Regions from separate parts of the Homo sapiens genome. Here region 2 is linked to region 1. Evidence: fine-mapped expression QTL. A gene starts in region 1. The other region holds a variant in brackets. All regions are shown on one strand. Distances are from middle to middle. Region 1 holds the start of AANAT (aralkylamine N-acetyltransferase). Region 2 has its middle 58 kb from the start of SNHG20.

The links.
Region 2: its variant is fine-mapped to the expression of AANAT in spinal cord (GTEx, PIP 0.95).

Annotation. Positions count from the first base shown.
Region 1 is chr17:76,462,711-76,470,937 of GRCh38, reverse strand. AANAT (aralkylamine N-acetyltransferase) reads right to left here and starts at 3,335. Exons shown (of 4, transcript NM_001088.3): 1 at 3,211-3,335; 2 at 2,029-2,266; 3 at 1,611-1,765; 4 at 821-1,273. The coding sequence starts at 2,191. The coding sequence ends at 968. RHBDF2 (rhomboid 5 homolog 2) reads left to right here. Exons shown (of 19, transcript NM_001005498.4): 19 at 1-42.
Region 2 is chr17:77,025,965-77,034,359 of GRCh38, reverse strand. No RefSeq gene overlaps it. Among named protein-coding and RNA genes, the nearest start is that of SNHG20, 58 kb to the left of the region's middle. The variant G/C (reference allele first, on the strand shown) is at 3,974.

The sequences.
Region 1 (8,227 bases):
TACGGACGATGTCTCATGGATTAAATAATATTCTTTATGGCAGTACATTGTCTTTAACGGAGACCTCAGGTAGCATGAAACTGGGATTTGGGGGTGAGGTGAGGGGTCAGCCATCAGCTGCTCAGAGACAGCAGTTTGGCCCGGTGGACAGCAGAAAACTTGTGGAGCATCTTGGGGAATTAGTTGGGCCAGAAAGCAGATTGGGGTCACGTGGGAGACCCCAGGGGTCCACTTGGGAGGGCTGGGTTGAATCCTTAGGGCCCTGGGGTTCCCACCCCTACCTGTTCTGCCTTGGCTCCAGAGCAGGGAAGGGGCTGCCTGGGCCCAGGGTGGCCTGCCCTGATGGGGATGGCACTGAGGGGACCTGTCACCCCACCCGGGGACGAGTCCACTCCCTGTGCCAGTGCCTCACCCACCACACTGAGGATGGCCAGTGAGGCACCGGGTATGACCACTTGATTACCATGGGCAGAGGGCCCTGCACCAGCTTCCCTGCCCCAAGCTGCCTCTACAGCACAGGCCTCCCGCCTCTGCCCCATCCTGCTGCTCCCCACTCTCCCCCACCCTAGGGGCTAAGGGTGGGAAGCGGCATCCATGAGGCTGGGGAGAATAAGGACACCCCCCCCCCCCACCGAGCAATGGGCTACTGTGAGGATGCCGCCTTGGTGCCTTTGCCCACCTGCCAGGAGGAAAGGAGCCAGGAACCCCACAGCACCTCCCATTGTCCCCGCTTACCAACCCAGCCCGGTCTCAGGTACAGAGTTCAGAACACAGGAGGTCCAGAGGCCTCGTGGGGACAGACAAGACACACCACTCCAGCTCAGGCCGTGAGAAGCCACCTTATCTCCTCTTTATTTAGCCCTGCTCTCTCCACTCTCTGGAAACTGCTGTCTCCATGCTCAGCTGAGCTAAGAGGAGCCCAGGGCAGAGACGGGGATCATGTTGGCAGCCAGGTGGGCAGCCCAGTTCAGCAGCCGCTGTTCCTGCGCAGGAAGGGGTGGCCCCGCAGGGAGCAGTGGAGCTCCATGAAGGTGAGGGAGCCCACGGTGATGGCGCAGGGGCCCACGGCGTGGAAGCTGAACCTCTCATAGAAGGGTACCAGCGCGTCCTCGCACATGAGCGCGGCCCGGCGCACGGCCGGCTGGCTGCCCAGGTGGTGCAGGTAGCGCCACAGCAGGATGGGGCCCCTGCCCTGCTGCCGGAAGGCGCGGTGCACGGCCAGCACATGCAGGTGGGCTATGTGGCCCCCAGACCTGTGCAGCGTCAGTGACTCCTGGGAGCGAGCAAGGGATGAGATCCCAGGTCACTTCTGCTGACACGTGCTCCCCCCCAACCACCAACCCAGGCAGGGAGCAGGTGTCCCCTGGGTGCCTGTGGTCAGGGCACCCACCCCAGCAAAGGAGGGCCCCAAATTGGGAGCCATACCCCCAACCCCATGGAGAAAACTTGAAGACCCAGAAGGTCTTGCTCTGGGAGGGGCCTGTGGCCTGTACTCATCTCTCCAGTTCTGGAGGAAGAAATCCCAGCCCCTGGGCTCCCCTCCCCGCCATCTGGCTGACCTCTGTCTTCAGAGGCCTCCCTGGAGCTGGGCGTCGCAGCCCTGTCCTCACCTGCATGAGTCTCTCCTTGTCCCAGAGCGAGCCGATGATGAAGGCCACAAGGCAGCCCTCCTCGAACCAGCCCAGGGACAGCTCTGGACATAGGGTCAGGAAGTGCCGGATCTCATCCAGGTACAGGGGGCAGACGCCCAAGACGGAGATGAAGGCTGTGGCAGGAGGCTCAGGTGGGTGACTGGTAGTCGCTGTGCCTCGCGTCCACTGTCTGCTGCACCCCGAGTGTCCACTCAGATGCCCCGTTCCCCACAGGAAAATGGGGGTTAGGGCTGCTGTTTCCCCCACTTTCTTGAGCGCACACATGGTCTGATACTCTGGGACCCAGCCTCCAAGGACAGGAGACTAAGGGTCTCCTCCCCACAGGATAACTGGACCAGAGTGGAGCATCCCTCTGACCCTGTGCGGGGCCACTCACCTTCACGCTCGATCTCAAAGGCGCTGACAGCGTCCTCCGGGGTGAGGCAGCGAAACTCACTGGCAGGGAGTGTGTGGCGCCGCTGACAGCTCGGGGACTCGGGGATCCCAGGTGGCAGACGTGGGGCCTCAGGTTTCAGGGGGTGGGTGCTCTGCGTGGACATTCTGGCCACTGGTGCCTCCTTGGGGCGCCCCAGCTTTGGAAGTGTCCTCCTAAGCCAAGGAGGGCCTCCCAGCACCTGTTGGAGAACAGCAAGGGACAGGGGTCTCATCCTCATCTCCAGGGAGGCAGGCCCCAGAGTATGTATCTGGCCTCTTTTGTAGCAGGAACTGGGGTGGAGACAGCCCCTAAATCAATGGGCACATTCCCCAGGTACCTGGTCCCCGAGGCTGTTACCAGGCATTGCAAACATTGGCACTGTCTCCCCACCTTTCCCTCTCAGCCAGAAGGATCCCTGGAGGTTTGCCACCTTGCAGACCTGCAGACATTGGTCTCAGGGTGCCGTCTGGGTGCTTCTGAGCCCCAGAGATGGTGGCAGGGATGAGCAGGGCTCAGTGGAGCCTGGGGCACCCCAACCCTGCTGCCCACGGTGGGAGGGGAGGCAGGACTCGTGACCCTCCACTGACCACGTCTAATGCAACTGTGCAGTGGGTGGGCGCCCGGTTCCCCCACACCACCATTCATGTGGTTTATCTTACCTCCCCAGAGGGAGGCTTCTGGTCCTTTGGGTGCAAGATCCTGTGGCAGAGAGCTTTTTAGGTAGCCTCAGCCCTTGGTCCTAGAGAGCCCCTTAATCAAAGTGGGCCCTTAGGGAGCCTCTACTTCTATCCAGATGGCCTCAGACTGGGCCACACACATGCAGGATTTGTGGTGGGGGGTGGGGAGGTTAGAGGGAGCCGGGGGCTGCAGAGGGCCTGGGGAATGGGGAGGAGCAGGCAAGGAGAGTGCATAGGACACCCCCTGCCCCACACATCCAGCTCATCAGACATTCCCCTCTGGGCACTCTTGTCTCCCAAGACACCCTGCAGATTTGCAGTTCTTAGAGGAGGCCATCCCTCCCTCCACCTTCCAAGACACTTAATAAACTCCATGGCTTCCATGTTTCCCTCCATGTCTAGAAGCTCCAAGTAGAGAAGCTCCTGTTCCTAAAGGCTGAGAGCCAGGAGTGGGGGTCCCACCTACCTGGACTGTGGAGAGGATACCCAGTGTTCCCTCCACAAAGCCGCTAGCCCTGGGGGCCTGTCCGCAGGCACGGGAACCAGTAAAATCCGGGACTCCGGGCTGCAAGGCTGTAGTAGCAGATGTTCCCCGGGCAGCCTGTGGTGCTGTTAGAGGTTTGTAATCCCCCCACCCCACCTCTCGAGCTATCCCAGGCAGGATGACGCCAGCAGGGCTCTGGCAGCCTCGGCCCCTGCCTTGCTGAAGGGAAACGTCAGCTCTGGTGCCCTGGGCACAGAAGGGATTACCAGAGGCTGACTGAGGCCCCAGGGTTTGGGGAAGAGAGCGTGGGGCTAAGCCTCAGGGGTCCATCTCTAATCCCTGCTCTGTCACCGACTGGCTGGGCACCAGCGATTCTCCCTCTGTCCCTCGGAGTCTTGGACAAGCCCACCTCTTATGTGGGGGGAGGGGGTGGGAATTCAAGCTACCAATTTGTGCACTTTAAGTACGTTCTACTTCAAGTTTATTTAAATATTTAATTTAATTAAATATTTAAATATTCAGGAGGTTGCCCTACCAAACATCTCAACTACAAAGCTCTCTGCTATTGACCTTGGCTCCACCCATTCCCAGGGCTGCCCAGGCCTTGGCACTTGGTGCTGGCATTCCCTCGGGATGCAGGCCCCTCTCCCTGTTGGCTCTGACTACCCCCTGCCCTCCAGCTCACACCCCATCCTGCACCCCTTAGCTCTTCTCTCGCCAGCACCTGCCTCTCCGCCCCACCCAGCAGTGCAGATCCTGTGTCCATCTCGGGCTCCTGGGGGTCCTGGAGGTTGGATTTCACAGGTGCACTCTTTTGACCCCCTGCAGAGGAAGCTTCTGCTCCTACCCACACAGCTTGGGACGGACCTCTGAGGGTCCTTCCTGTCCTGGCAGCCTGTGAGTGCCACTGCTTACAGCACTTGCTATGTGCCGGGCCCTGGATACGCGTCTCCTTTAATCCACACGGAAGCCCGGCCAAATGAGTATTAACCACGTTATAGAGAAGGAAACCGAGGCACAGACAGGTTCAGTAACCTGCTCAGAGCCATCCAACAAGTGAAGGGGGAGGGGCAAAGCCGGGTCAGCCTCCTGACATGCACTGCCACGGCTGCACTGGTGGGACCCACTCATCTCACAATGAGACTCCTGTTTCCTGTCTTCATGATTCTCCTGCTGGTTTTCAGTGTCCTCACAGGTGCACTCTTTCGACCCCCCCGCAGAGGAAGCTCCTGTTCCTACCCATACGGTTTGGGACACAGCCCCTGACCGTGGAGTGACCCCGTCCCGATGCCCCCGCCCACCCACCACATGCATTCCTCCTGTCTCTGGGTCCCCTTCTCCCAGGGCCCCTCTGCACTCTGAGGCCCACCTGCCTGCTAGAAGGGACCCTCAACAGACCTCTCAGGACCGACCAGAGACCTCCTTGGGCTTGGTTGGTGGGGTGGTCATGTCCAAGACCTCAGCTGGGCATCCCCACCTTCAACCTCCAGGGTCCCCCAAAAGGCCTCTTCTGTCCCTTCATAGACTGTGGCTCCATGGCACCCCCTGGTGGCCAATCCTAATCAGTCACTTGGCGATGCCTGAGAAGAGCCTGCTGTTCAATCGGCCTCTCTCTTTGCTGACTTCCACATGGCCCTGTTCTTTCCGGACAACACCCTAGAGGTCTAGAACCTCAGGGAACAAGATGAGGCAGTAAGCCAGGCACAGTGGCTCACCGCTGTAATCCCAGCACTTTGGGAGACAGAGACGGGAGGATGGCTTGAGCCGGAGAGGTCGAGGCTGTAGTGACTCGCCACTGCACTCCAGCCTGGGCGACAGAGCGAGACCCTGTCTCAAAAAAATACAAATAAAAATAAATTTTTTTTAAAGATGAGGCGGTATGTTAAACATGGTGAAACTGGGAAGTTCAAACCCTTGTGGGACAGGAGAGGAGACAGGGGAGGGCAGGGTGATCGCTGGGACCTTTGTCCTGGTCAACAGGAAGAAAACCACATACCACCACCAATGAGAAGGAAAATAAGGAGGGTGAGGGGCCCAACAGGGTGATGGGTACAGAGAGAAGGAGATCCCTGGGGCTGGGCATAGTGGCTCACACCTGTAATCCCAGCACTTTGGGAGGCCAAGGCAGGAGGATCACTTGAGCCCAGGAGTTTGAGACCAGCCTGGGCAACATAGCAAGACCCCTGTCTCTACAAAAAATTTAAAAATCAGCCAAGCATGGTGGCACACACCTGTAGCCCCAGCTACTTGGGAGGCTGAGGTGGGAAGATCACTTGAGCCTAGGTGGTTCAGGCTGCAGTGATGAGCCACTGCACTCCAGCCTGGGTAACTGAGCAAGATGTTGTCTCAAAAAAAAAAAAAAAAATCCTGACCTCAGGTGGGCTCTAAAAAAGAAGCACCTCCGAGATCATCCTCACGCCAGGGACACCGATTGCACTGTTTATCAGATGCCCAGTCTTGTCCTGCTATTGCAGTTAAGAGTGCTGGCAACGCCTCTGGTGACTGCCTCTCAGGTGGATCTTGGGGATGGGGGGGAGAATGTGTCCTTTGCCCCCCAAGTCGTACCTGTTCAGTCACTCTAGACAGCTGATAAACACCTAACCTGATGGGCAAGGCCGGGCACGGTGGCTCATGCCTGTAATCCCAGCACTTTGGGAGGCTGAGGCGGGTGGATCACCTGAGGTCAAGAGTTCGAGACCAGCCTGGCCAATATGGTGAAACTCCGTCTCTACTAAAAATACAAAAAATCAGCCAGGTGTGGTGGTGGGCGCTTGTAATCCCAGCCACTTGGGAGGCTGAGGCAGGAGAATTGCTTGAACCCAGGAAGCAGAGGTTGCAGTGAGCCAAGATCGTGCCATTGTACTCCAGCCTGGGCAAAAAGAGTGAAACTGCTATCTCAAAAAAAAAAAATATATAGATACAGACAGGGAGAAGCTGGCATCTGTATGTTTCCCAGGGGTGCTGTAACAGATGATACACAAACTGGATGACTGTAAACCACAGAAATGGCTTGACGTCGTGGCTCATGCCTGTAATCCCAGCACTTTGGGAGGCCGAGGCTCTTTGTTCCCAGCCTCTCCCTCCAGCAGCAGCTCCCTTGAAAGTCCTGTATCCACAACTCACCCACCGCGACTCCCTGCCCAGTGTGTACCATGCCACCCTGCCTCACCCATGATGGCTCCCCTCAGGGGTCCCCCTGTCTCTCCACCCAGCCTGGCCTCTTTCGATCTCCCAGACAGATTTACACATTTCAAATGCCAGATGGGGTTCAGTTTTCTCCCAAAAGGCTCTTCGGTCCCATGAAAATCATGGTCTGTGACTGGGCTTCCACTTCAAGACTCCAGAATATTCTTTTTTTTTTTTTTTTTAAGACAGAGTCTTGCTCTGTGGCCCAGGCTGGAGTGCAATGGCACAATCTCGGCTCACTGCAACCTCCGCCTCCCAGGTTCAAGCAATTCTCCTGCCTTAGCCTCCCAAGTAGCTGGGATTACGGGCGCACACCACCATGCCTGGCTAATTTTTTTTATTTTTCCTAGAGATGGGCTTTCGCCATATTGGTCAGGCTGGTCTCAAACTCCTGAACTCAGGTGATCCACCTGCCTCAGCCTCCTAAAGTGTTGGGATTACAGGCGTGAGCCACCGCACCCAGGCAGGACTCCAGAATATTCTATAGCAGTTTGGAGAGGGGTTGTCCAGGGCACACAGAGAACTGCCAGGGACCATGCTACCTAACTCCCCACCTGCCCTGGTAGAGCCTCACCTCTGACCCATCAGAGCCCCCATCCCACTCCTAATCAGATGTGGTGAGGATGATGACGACAGTTATTGAGCGGATAACTGATATCATGACAGTAAAAAAGGTTCTGAGAGGATGTGTATCACCACACGAAAGCTGAGAACCAAGCTTTTGGGATGTCCACTGTTAGCAGGGAAAGGAGTTATTAACAGGAACACAGGTGAAGCCACAAGAAGGGAAGAACCCAGGGGAGAATGTCCAAGAAATGGGGCAGATAGAGCCTGAAATGCCACAAAGAATGGAGAACAGATCTCAGATTCTGCCAACAGGGAGGCTCCGATGACCTTTAAGAATCCTTCCAGAAAAGGCCGGGCACGGTGGCTCACACCTGTAATCCCAGCACTTTAGGAGGCTGAGGTGGGTGGATAGCTCGAGGTCAGGAGTTCAATAGCAGTCTGGCTAACATGGTGAAACCCCGTCTCTACTAAAAATACAAAAATGATCTGGGCGTGGTGGTGGGTGCCTGTAATCCCAGCTACTCGGGAGGCTGAGGCAGGAGAATTGCTGGAACCCAGGAGGCAGAGGTTGCAGTGAGCCAAGATTGCACCACTGCACTCCAACTTGGGCCACAGAGCAAGACTGTATCTCAAAAAAAAAAAAAAAAGGAATCCTTCCAGAAGGGAGAAATGGGTGGAGAGGCCAGATGCAGAGGAATGGCCTTAATGGTGACAGTGAGAGGTGGAGTGCAGAGGCCGTTGATTAAAGGCACACTGACTCGCTGCCACGGCCGGGGGTTGGAGAAAACCTCCCCACGGCCCCCACCCCATCCCGGGCACCGAGCCTGCTGCAGCTGCTGATACCCCCGGAGAGCCTGGTGCAGGGGCAGTGAGCATCCCCACCGGGCCCAGTGCAGAAGCCCTGGACCTGGAATCTGGGAGCTTCCCGCATGGAGACACACCCCCTCCCCTCCGTGTGTCAGCTGCCCAGTTTCACACCCAGACTGAAGGGAGCCCATTTGGGGCAGACCAAGGAGTGGGCCCCATGGCCATGTCCCAGGGACACCTTGACGATGCCTCTGAGATACCGGTTTTCCATGCAGAGCAGTTGAGAGGCCCGGCGTGCAGGAAGCATAGCCCTCTCTTCAGGCTCTTGTGCAATGGCTGCATTTTTTTGGTGGTTTCGATGGTCACTTTCTCTCTCAACTCCTCCCCTGCACTAAAGGTCTGCCCCACAGACCTGGCACTGAGCACATCTCGCGTTATC
Region 2 (8,395 bases), 560 kb before region 1:
CAAAGCCATCTCTAAGTGGCACCCCACCCCCCAGCCCACCTGGTCCTCATGATGGAGAAATCCAGGTCACAGCTGGGCAGGCTCCAGAGAGGAGTGAGGCCGCTTGGCACTAAAGAGAATGGAGGGTGGAGGAGGAGGCAGTGGGTGGCTGAGTGGAGGAGAGAAGCCCACGTGCACAGGTGCAACAGTGGAAAAAGACCCCCGGGCCGGGTGTGACGGTGCATCCCTCGGGAGGCTAAGGTGGGAGGATCTCTAGCCCAGGAAGTCGAGGCTGCAGTGAGCCATGATTGCACCACTGCACTCCAGCCTGCGTGACAGATCGAAACCCCCATCTCTTAAAAAAAAAAGCCAATTAAAACTAAAGACAACCCCTGGCTGAGAATGCTGTAGAGGCAATTCAAGGACAGAGCTCGTGCTGAACAAAACATGCCTTTAAATTTTTAACTCCTATAACCGATTTCTCTTGTTTATCATATTGTTTGAGGCTCCGTGAAGGCCCAGGCAGGAAAATAGAAAGCACTTCAGGTACTGAACCCAGAGAGAATTTAATGGAGAGAGTGTTGGGAAAGCCAGCCTTGGGCGTGCAGTCTCTCAACCCGAATAGTCACATGAGAATGGGCCGTGGGCCCAGATCACTTCCTTACAAATAAAGAAAGAGCTCTCCCAGCCCGTGCTGGGCATCTGTCTTCGGGGATACCTTTCCCTGTGCTTGACTTGATGGGCCTTCTGTTCTGCCTGAGTGTGTGCATCCTGTGGCACCCACCACCCACTGCTCTATCTGTTCCCAGTGGGGGGTTGGGGTGAGAGGGGTGCACGCAGACCCTCTCCCTGGAGTGCTAGGCCACGTGGAGCGGCGGGGGCTGACACTCACTATTGCAGCTGATCATGCTCCACCTGCTGTCTAGGTGAGTCTAGCATGGTTCCATCCTGTGCCTGTGTGAGTCGTGTCTTTCTTGGCACCGTCCTCACCCACAAGCCACGCAGGGGGCTGACGTCCCAGGACTGCTGCTCCTGGTGGCAGGACCCGCCACTCAATAGGGCTCTTCCACTGAAGGTGGTAACAGGTATCACTTGCTTAACACTTAATGATGGCATGGATGATAAGGGGGCAGGGATGGGAAGCTGCTACCACGCTGAGGGATGGAGGGACAAAGGGAAGATGTGGAGCTACCAGGACCTCAGGACTGGGGTCACTTGTGGAGAGCCATGGGTGGGGTCACAGCCATGCAGAGATGTAGCCCAAGACAGAGAGGGAGAGCATGAACTCCCCAGAATGCCTACCCTCCAGTCTCCCACCAGTGCCTCCCATGGACTGGAGGCAGTCTGGGCCTAGAAATAGCCTGCAGAGGTCAGACCCGACCACAGCTGCAGCAGGTGAGGAGGGACCGGGGCAAACAGGCCCACCATGAGCCAGCGAATGCACACACTGCATCCTCAGAATAACACACAAAATGTGCTGAAATGGTTTCCGACGGCTGCTGTCACTACTTACACAAACATGGTGGCTTAGACAACAGTTATTCTCTTACAGTTCTGGAGATCAGAAATCCAAAATCACTTTCACTGACTGGGTGCAGTGGCTCACGCCTGTAATCCCAGCACTTTAGGAGGCCGAGGTGGGTGGATCACTTGAGGCCAGGAGTTCAAGATCAGCCTGAGCAACACGGTGAAACCTTGTCTCTACTGAAAAAAAAATTAGCTGGGTGTGGTGGTGTGCACCTGTAGTCCCAGCTACTTGAGAGGCTGAGGTGGGAGGGTCACTTGAGCCCAGGACTTTGAGATCAGCCTAGGCAATATAGCGAAACCCCATCTCTACAAATAATACACACAAAAAAATAGCTGGGCTTGGTGGTGTACGCCTGTTGTCCCAGCTACTCAGGAGGCTGAGGCAGGAGGATCACTTGAGCCCAGGAGGTGGAGGCTGCAGTGAGCTAACATTTTATTTTTGAGACCCTTTCCCCAAATAAAAATAAAAAACCACGTTCACGGTGCTGGAATCCAGGTGCTGGTAGGCGGCACTCTCTGCGGAGGCTCTAGGGGAGGCTCTTGTTTCCTTGCTTTTCCAGCTTCTAGAGCTACTACGTTCCTTGCAGTCCTTGGCTTGTGGCCTCTTCCTTCATCTTGAAAGCCAGCAGTGTAGCATCTTCAAATCTTTCTGCCAAAGTCCTCACATCACCTTCTTTTACCCTTGTAGTCAAATCTCCCTCTGACTCCCTCTCCTAAGGACACTTGTGATTACATTTGGGGCCCATCCGGGAAAGCCAGGATCCTCTCTCCACCTCAAGCCTTAATCACTTCTGCCCAGGCCCTCTTGCCATAGAAGGTTACATTCACAGCTTCCAGGGATTAGGAGCTGGATATCTTTGGGGGCCATAATTCAGGCTTTCATGGGTACAAAAGTGGACACTTCCTGTAATAGTTAGCTATTGCTGTGTAACAAATTACCCCAACATGTGGCAGCCCAAAACAACAAACTTTTTAAATCTCATGCAGTTTTCATGGGTCAGTTATTTCAGAGTAGCTTAGCTGTGTGGTTATATCTCAAGAGGTTGCAATCAAGCTGTCAGCCAGGGCTGACATCACCAGAAGGTTTGACCAGGCTGGAGAATCCACTCCAAGATGGCTCCTCACACAGCTGTTGCAGGAGGCTTCAGGTCCTCACCACGTGGGCTTCTCCATGAGGCCACTTGAGGTTCCTCACAGCATGGCTGCTGGCTGGCTTCCCCCAGACTGAGAATTCTGAGAAGGAAAGCTGGCAAGAAGCCACGGTACCTTTTATGACCTTGCCTGCATTAATTTGTTAGGGCTGCCAAAGTACCACAGGCTGGGTGGCTTACACAACAGAAATGTCTTTTTTCACGATCCTGGAGGCGAGACATTGCAATCAAGGTATTAGCAAGATTGGTTTCATCTGAGGCCTCTTTCAGAAGGCTTTCTTTCTTTCTTTCTTTCTTTCTTTCTTTCTTTCTTTCTTTCTTTCTTTCTCTCTTTCCTTTCTTTCTTTCTCTCTTTCTTTCTTTTTCTTGTTTCTTTTCTTTTTTTTTTTTTGAGGCAAAGTCTCACTCTGTCACTTAGGCTGGAGTGCAGTGGCATGATCTCAGCTCACTGAAACCTCCACCTCCAGGATTCAAGCAATTCTCCTGCCTCAGCTTCCTGAGAAGCTGGGACTACAGGTGTGTGCCACCACGCCTGGCTAAGTTTTGTAATTTTAGTAGAGATGGGGTTTCACCATGTTGGCCAGGCTGGTCTCGAACTTCTGACCTCAGGTGATCCATCTGCCTTGGCCTCCCAAAGTGCTGAGATTACAGGGGTGAGCCACCATGCCTGGCTTCAGAAGGCTTTCTGAGTCTCCCTTAGAGATGGCTGTCTTCTCCCTGTATCCTCACGTGGTCTTCCCTCTGTCTATGCTCGTGTCCTAATTTCCTCTTCTTATGAGGACATCAGTTAGATTGGATTAGGGCCCACCCATGTGACATTATATTACCATAATTATCACTTTAAAGGTCTTATCTCCAAATACAGTCACATTCTGAAGTACTGGGGGTTAGGACTTCAATATATGAATTTGTCAGGGGACATTATTTAGCTCCTAACAGCCTCAGAAGTGACATACTTCTGCCATATTCTCTGGGTCAGATAGACCAATCCTACTACAATAACGGAGCGACTACTTCAGGATGTGGACGCCAGGAGGTGGGCTCAATGGGGTCTTCTTGGAGGCCTCTCCCTTTATGCCCAGAAGAATTTTTTTTTTTTAAATGGAGTCTCACTCTGTCACCCAGGCTGGAGTGCAGTGGTGTGACCTCAGCTCACCACAACCTCTGCTTCCTGGGTTCAAGCGATTCTCCTGTCTCAGCCTCCCGAGTAGCTGGGATTACAGGCATGCGCCATGATGCCTGGCTAATTTTTGTATTTTTAGTAGAGATGGGGTTTCGTCATGTTGGCCAGGCTGGTCTCGAACTCTTAACCTCAG[G/C]TGATCTGCCCGCCTCGGCCTCCCAAAGTGCTGGGATTACAGACGTGAGCCACCACACCCGCCAAGAGAAATTCTTACTAGTTCTTGCATATATTTCTAGGGCTACTGTATATATGCTCAGCCACATATGTACAAGAAGTGCACATGTATACAAGTGAGGTGTATAAACATGGTGCCCTGTACCTTGCTTTCTTCACTTAGTAAGCCCACAAGGAGCGGCCTCATTCTTTTTTGGATTCCACTGTATGAATTGCTGCCATTTAATTAACTGATCCCCTGAATATTTATGGGTTTTTTTTTTTTCGAGCTGGAGTTTTGCTCTTGTTGCCCAGGCTGGGGTGCAATGGCACAATATCAGCTCACCGCAACCTCTGCCTCCCAGGTTCAAGTGATTCTCCTGCCTCAGCCTCCCAAGTAGCTGGGATTACAGACACTCACCACCACGCCCGGCTAATTTTTGTATTTTTAGTAGAGACAAGGTTTCACCATGTTGGCCAGGCTGGTCTCGAACTCCTGACCTCAGGTGGTCCACCTGCCCTCTGCCTCCCAAAGTGCTGGGATTACAGGCTTGAGCCATGGCGCATGGCGAAGTTTATATTCTTTGCAATATTTTGCCATTGCACATAATGATGCAACAAATATTCATCTACTGGTATCATTCCTCGTGTGTGCTAGTATATTTGCAGGGTAAGTACCTGCTGTGAAATTGCTGGGTCAAAGGCTGTAAGTCTTTAACAGATGCTGTCAGATGGTGAAGTTGGTCTCTTGAAGGTTTTTCCAGTTTACACTCTTGTGAACATGGTGCAGACAGCCTGTCCCTGCAGTCTCACTGACAGCATGTGGTCATCCTTTCACTCTCGCTGATCTGCTGAAGTGGTATCTTGGCCGGGCATGGTGGCTCACACCTGTAATCCCAGCACTTTGGGAGGCTGAGGCAGGAGAATCACTTGAGCCCAGGAGTTCGAGGCCAGCTTGGGCAACATGGTGAAACCCTGTCTCTACAAAAAATACAAAAATGAGCTGAGTGTGGTGGCATGAGCCTGTAGTCCCAGCTACTCGGGAGGCTGAGGCGGGATGATCGTTTGAGCCCGGGAGGTAGAGGCTGCAGTGAGCCGTGATTGCGCCGCTGCACTCCAGCCTGGGTGACAGGGTGAGCTCCTGTCTAAAACAACAACAGAAACAACATCTCGGTGTAGCTTTAAAAAAAATTATTGAGGTAAAATTTGCATAACATAAATTTAACCATCTTTAAGGTGAACAATTCAGTGGCATTAAGTACATTCACAGTGTTGTGCAATCACCTCTATTTAGTTCTAAAACATTTTCGTCACCCCAAAATAAAGTCCCCTACTCTGCCTGTAGTCCCAGCACTTTGGGAGGCAGAGACAGGAGGATCGCTTGAGCCCAGGAGTTTGAGACCAGCCTGGCAATATAGGGAGACCCCGTCTCTATGAAAAATGAAAAAAATTAGCCAGGCATAGTGGTGCATACCTGTAGACCAAGCTACTTGGAAGGCTGAGGCAGAACGATTGCTTGAGCCTGGGAGGTCGAGGCCTCAGTGAGCCATGATTGTGCCACTGCGCTCCAGCCTGGGTGACAGAGTGAGATCCTGCCTCAAAAACAAAAAAACAAGCAAACAAAAAAGAGTCCACACCCGTGAAGCATCATTGCATTTCGCCCTCTGCCAGCCCTTGGCAACCACCCATCTGCTTTCTGTCTCTGTGGACTTGCCTATTCTGGACATTTCATGGAAATCATGCAATATGCGGCTCTTTGTAAATGGCTTCCTTCACTGAGCACCATGTTTCAGAGCTTCACCTGTTTGTGGTGTGTGTTCCTTCCCTTTCATGGCTGGGTAATATTCCACTGTATGACACACGGCATTGTGTTTATCTGGTCATCTGCTGATAAACCCTAAGACCACTTCCATTTCAGTGTGGTTTCAATTTGCATTTCCCTGATTATGAGGGAGGTTGAGTTTCTTTTCATGTGTCAGGTGCTCTTTAGGGCCCTTTCCAAACCAGAGGCAGGATGAGCTGGAGACAGGATGAAGCTCAGGGATGCACTGCAGCTGCACTGAAGTGCCTCATCCCCATCCTTCGGGTTCCAGGGCCTTTGGGTGTCAGAGGAGAGTGGCCTCCCTCAGGAACAGCCAAGTCTGGGCACCTGAGCCTGGTGGAGCCAGGAGGGCCCTGGAGTTAATGCAAAGAGTCACCACTTAGTGAGCATTTCCTGTGCGCCTGGCATTCTTGTTGGCACTGCATATATTATTATTAACTCCTTGAACCCTTGCAGCAACTCCAGGCTGATTTATTACACCCTTTACAGTTGAGGAAACTGATACCCGAGATGTTGTGTAACGTGCTCTTAAACGGGGGGGGCACAGCAGGTACAGAAGTCATCAGCAGGACTGTTGGATGTAGGCGCCAAGGTTGTGCCCAACACACCCTGTGAGGCCTCCCTCTCAAAAGGCTGCCCCTGGCAACTTACCCTGCCCTCCTCTTCCTCAGCACCTTCCCCTCCAGGCCCCTAGAGAGGAACAGGATTTGTCCTCTTCATACTTCTTGTATCGGCAATCTATTGCTGCTTAACAAAGTGCTCGAAAACTTAATAGCTTCAATCAACACTTGTTATCTCAGTTTCTGAAGGTCAGGAATGCGGGAGTGGCTCAGCTGGGGTAGGTTCTGGCTCAAGTTCCCTCTCTGTAGTCAAATTGTCAGGCTGTAGTCAAATTGTCAGCCAAGGCTACAGTCATCTGAAGGTTTGACTGGGACTGGAGAAACCATTTCCAAGATGGCTCCCTCACATAGCTGTGGACTGGAGGCCTCATTTCCTCTCTGGCTGCTGGCAGAAGGTCTTAGTTCCTTGCCATGTGGATCTCTCTCAAAGGCTAATTGAGTGTCCTCAGAACATGGTGGCTGACTTCCCCAAAGGGAGTGATCTAAGAGGAAGTTGCAGTGCCTTTTATGACCTAGTCTCAGGAGTGACAGATGATAATTTCTGCCATATTCTATTTGTTAGAAGTTCCTAAGTTCAGCCCATTCTCAAAAGGAGGGAATTAAACTTCCTTGAAGTGAGGAGTGTAGAAGCATTTGTGGACATACATTTGCTCCTTTTTCTTGTTCTGGGTCCTGGATCTCTTTGGCCAAGTGTCTGGGGTTTGGTTATGTGCAGAGGTGATGACCATGGCTTGGGGGCGGTGGGTTGGGGTATCAGGCCCTGTGATGGGGTAAGACAGGTGAGCATTGCCTCACTTATCTGGAATTGGGAGTGGTTGGCACATCTTTGTTCATCTCAACACATCCTCTTATTTTGTTTTCTATTAAAGGAAGCAGAAGTCCTTGACAGACAGATGGAGGCCACTCCCTCTCCCAACCCCCTCCTCTGAAGATGGCTGGGACAGAGTCACAGGAAAGGGTGGGGGAGAATTAATAGTGTAAACCTGGGGTTTTGAACCTGGCATGCAAGATCCCCAAGGGATTTTTGGATAGAATTTAGGGAGGGCATGCATTTGGATAGAAGAAAAAAATAATTCTCTGTTTTCACAAACCTCTGTCTCATATTTACCATTTCCTCTAATTATAAATGCAGTTGACAAAACACAATAGTATTAGACACACTCTTGACTTTCTCACCAAAAAACAATTACAGATTTTTTCATTCCATCACAGCTGTTGCAGAAATCTTGCAATATCATTTACGCTGATCACTATTACAAAATGACTGTGGTTATAAGGCCATCCACTGGGTTGTACGATTTATGCTTTAGTAAACAAGTACATCTTTCTACATCACAAACTGGGCTTTTAAATATTTTAATAACTGTATTTCCATATGGTTGGCTTTCTTGTGATTGTATGAATTTGTTCTATGCATTTAAAAACTAAGAAGGGACCAAAGACGTCACTAGGCTGCAAAGAGGTCTGGGGTAAGAAAAGATTGAAAACTTCCTGGGTGGAGGAAGAGTTTGGGGAGATACTGAAACCAATGAAAATCAGGAGATTTGACCATTAAGAGCTGCTGGTGACCTTTGACAAGGCAAAGGTGACAGAGGAAATGAAGTGATGGATTTAGGAAACCACTGCCCAGTAAAGGAAGGTGAGGCTTCACACTCACGGAAGGTTTCCTGCTTCATGGTCACTGGTTGTAAATGGTTCATTCCTGCTATCCCTCATTGTGGGTCCAGGAGTCCACCCACCCACCACCACCCCCTCTCCCTCTCACCTTCCACCCCCCACTGCTTGATTTCCTCACTCCATTCTCCAAACTTGTTACACCCATTTGCCCACCATTTTCTTTCCCAGCAATGACCTTTTCCCCTTGCCTACCAGGAGACTTGTACTCATCCTTTAAAACATCACTCTCATAGGGCTGATGATGACCCTGTGCTCACTCACCGCTCCCATGACTGCCTTCTCCATG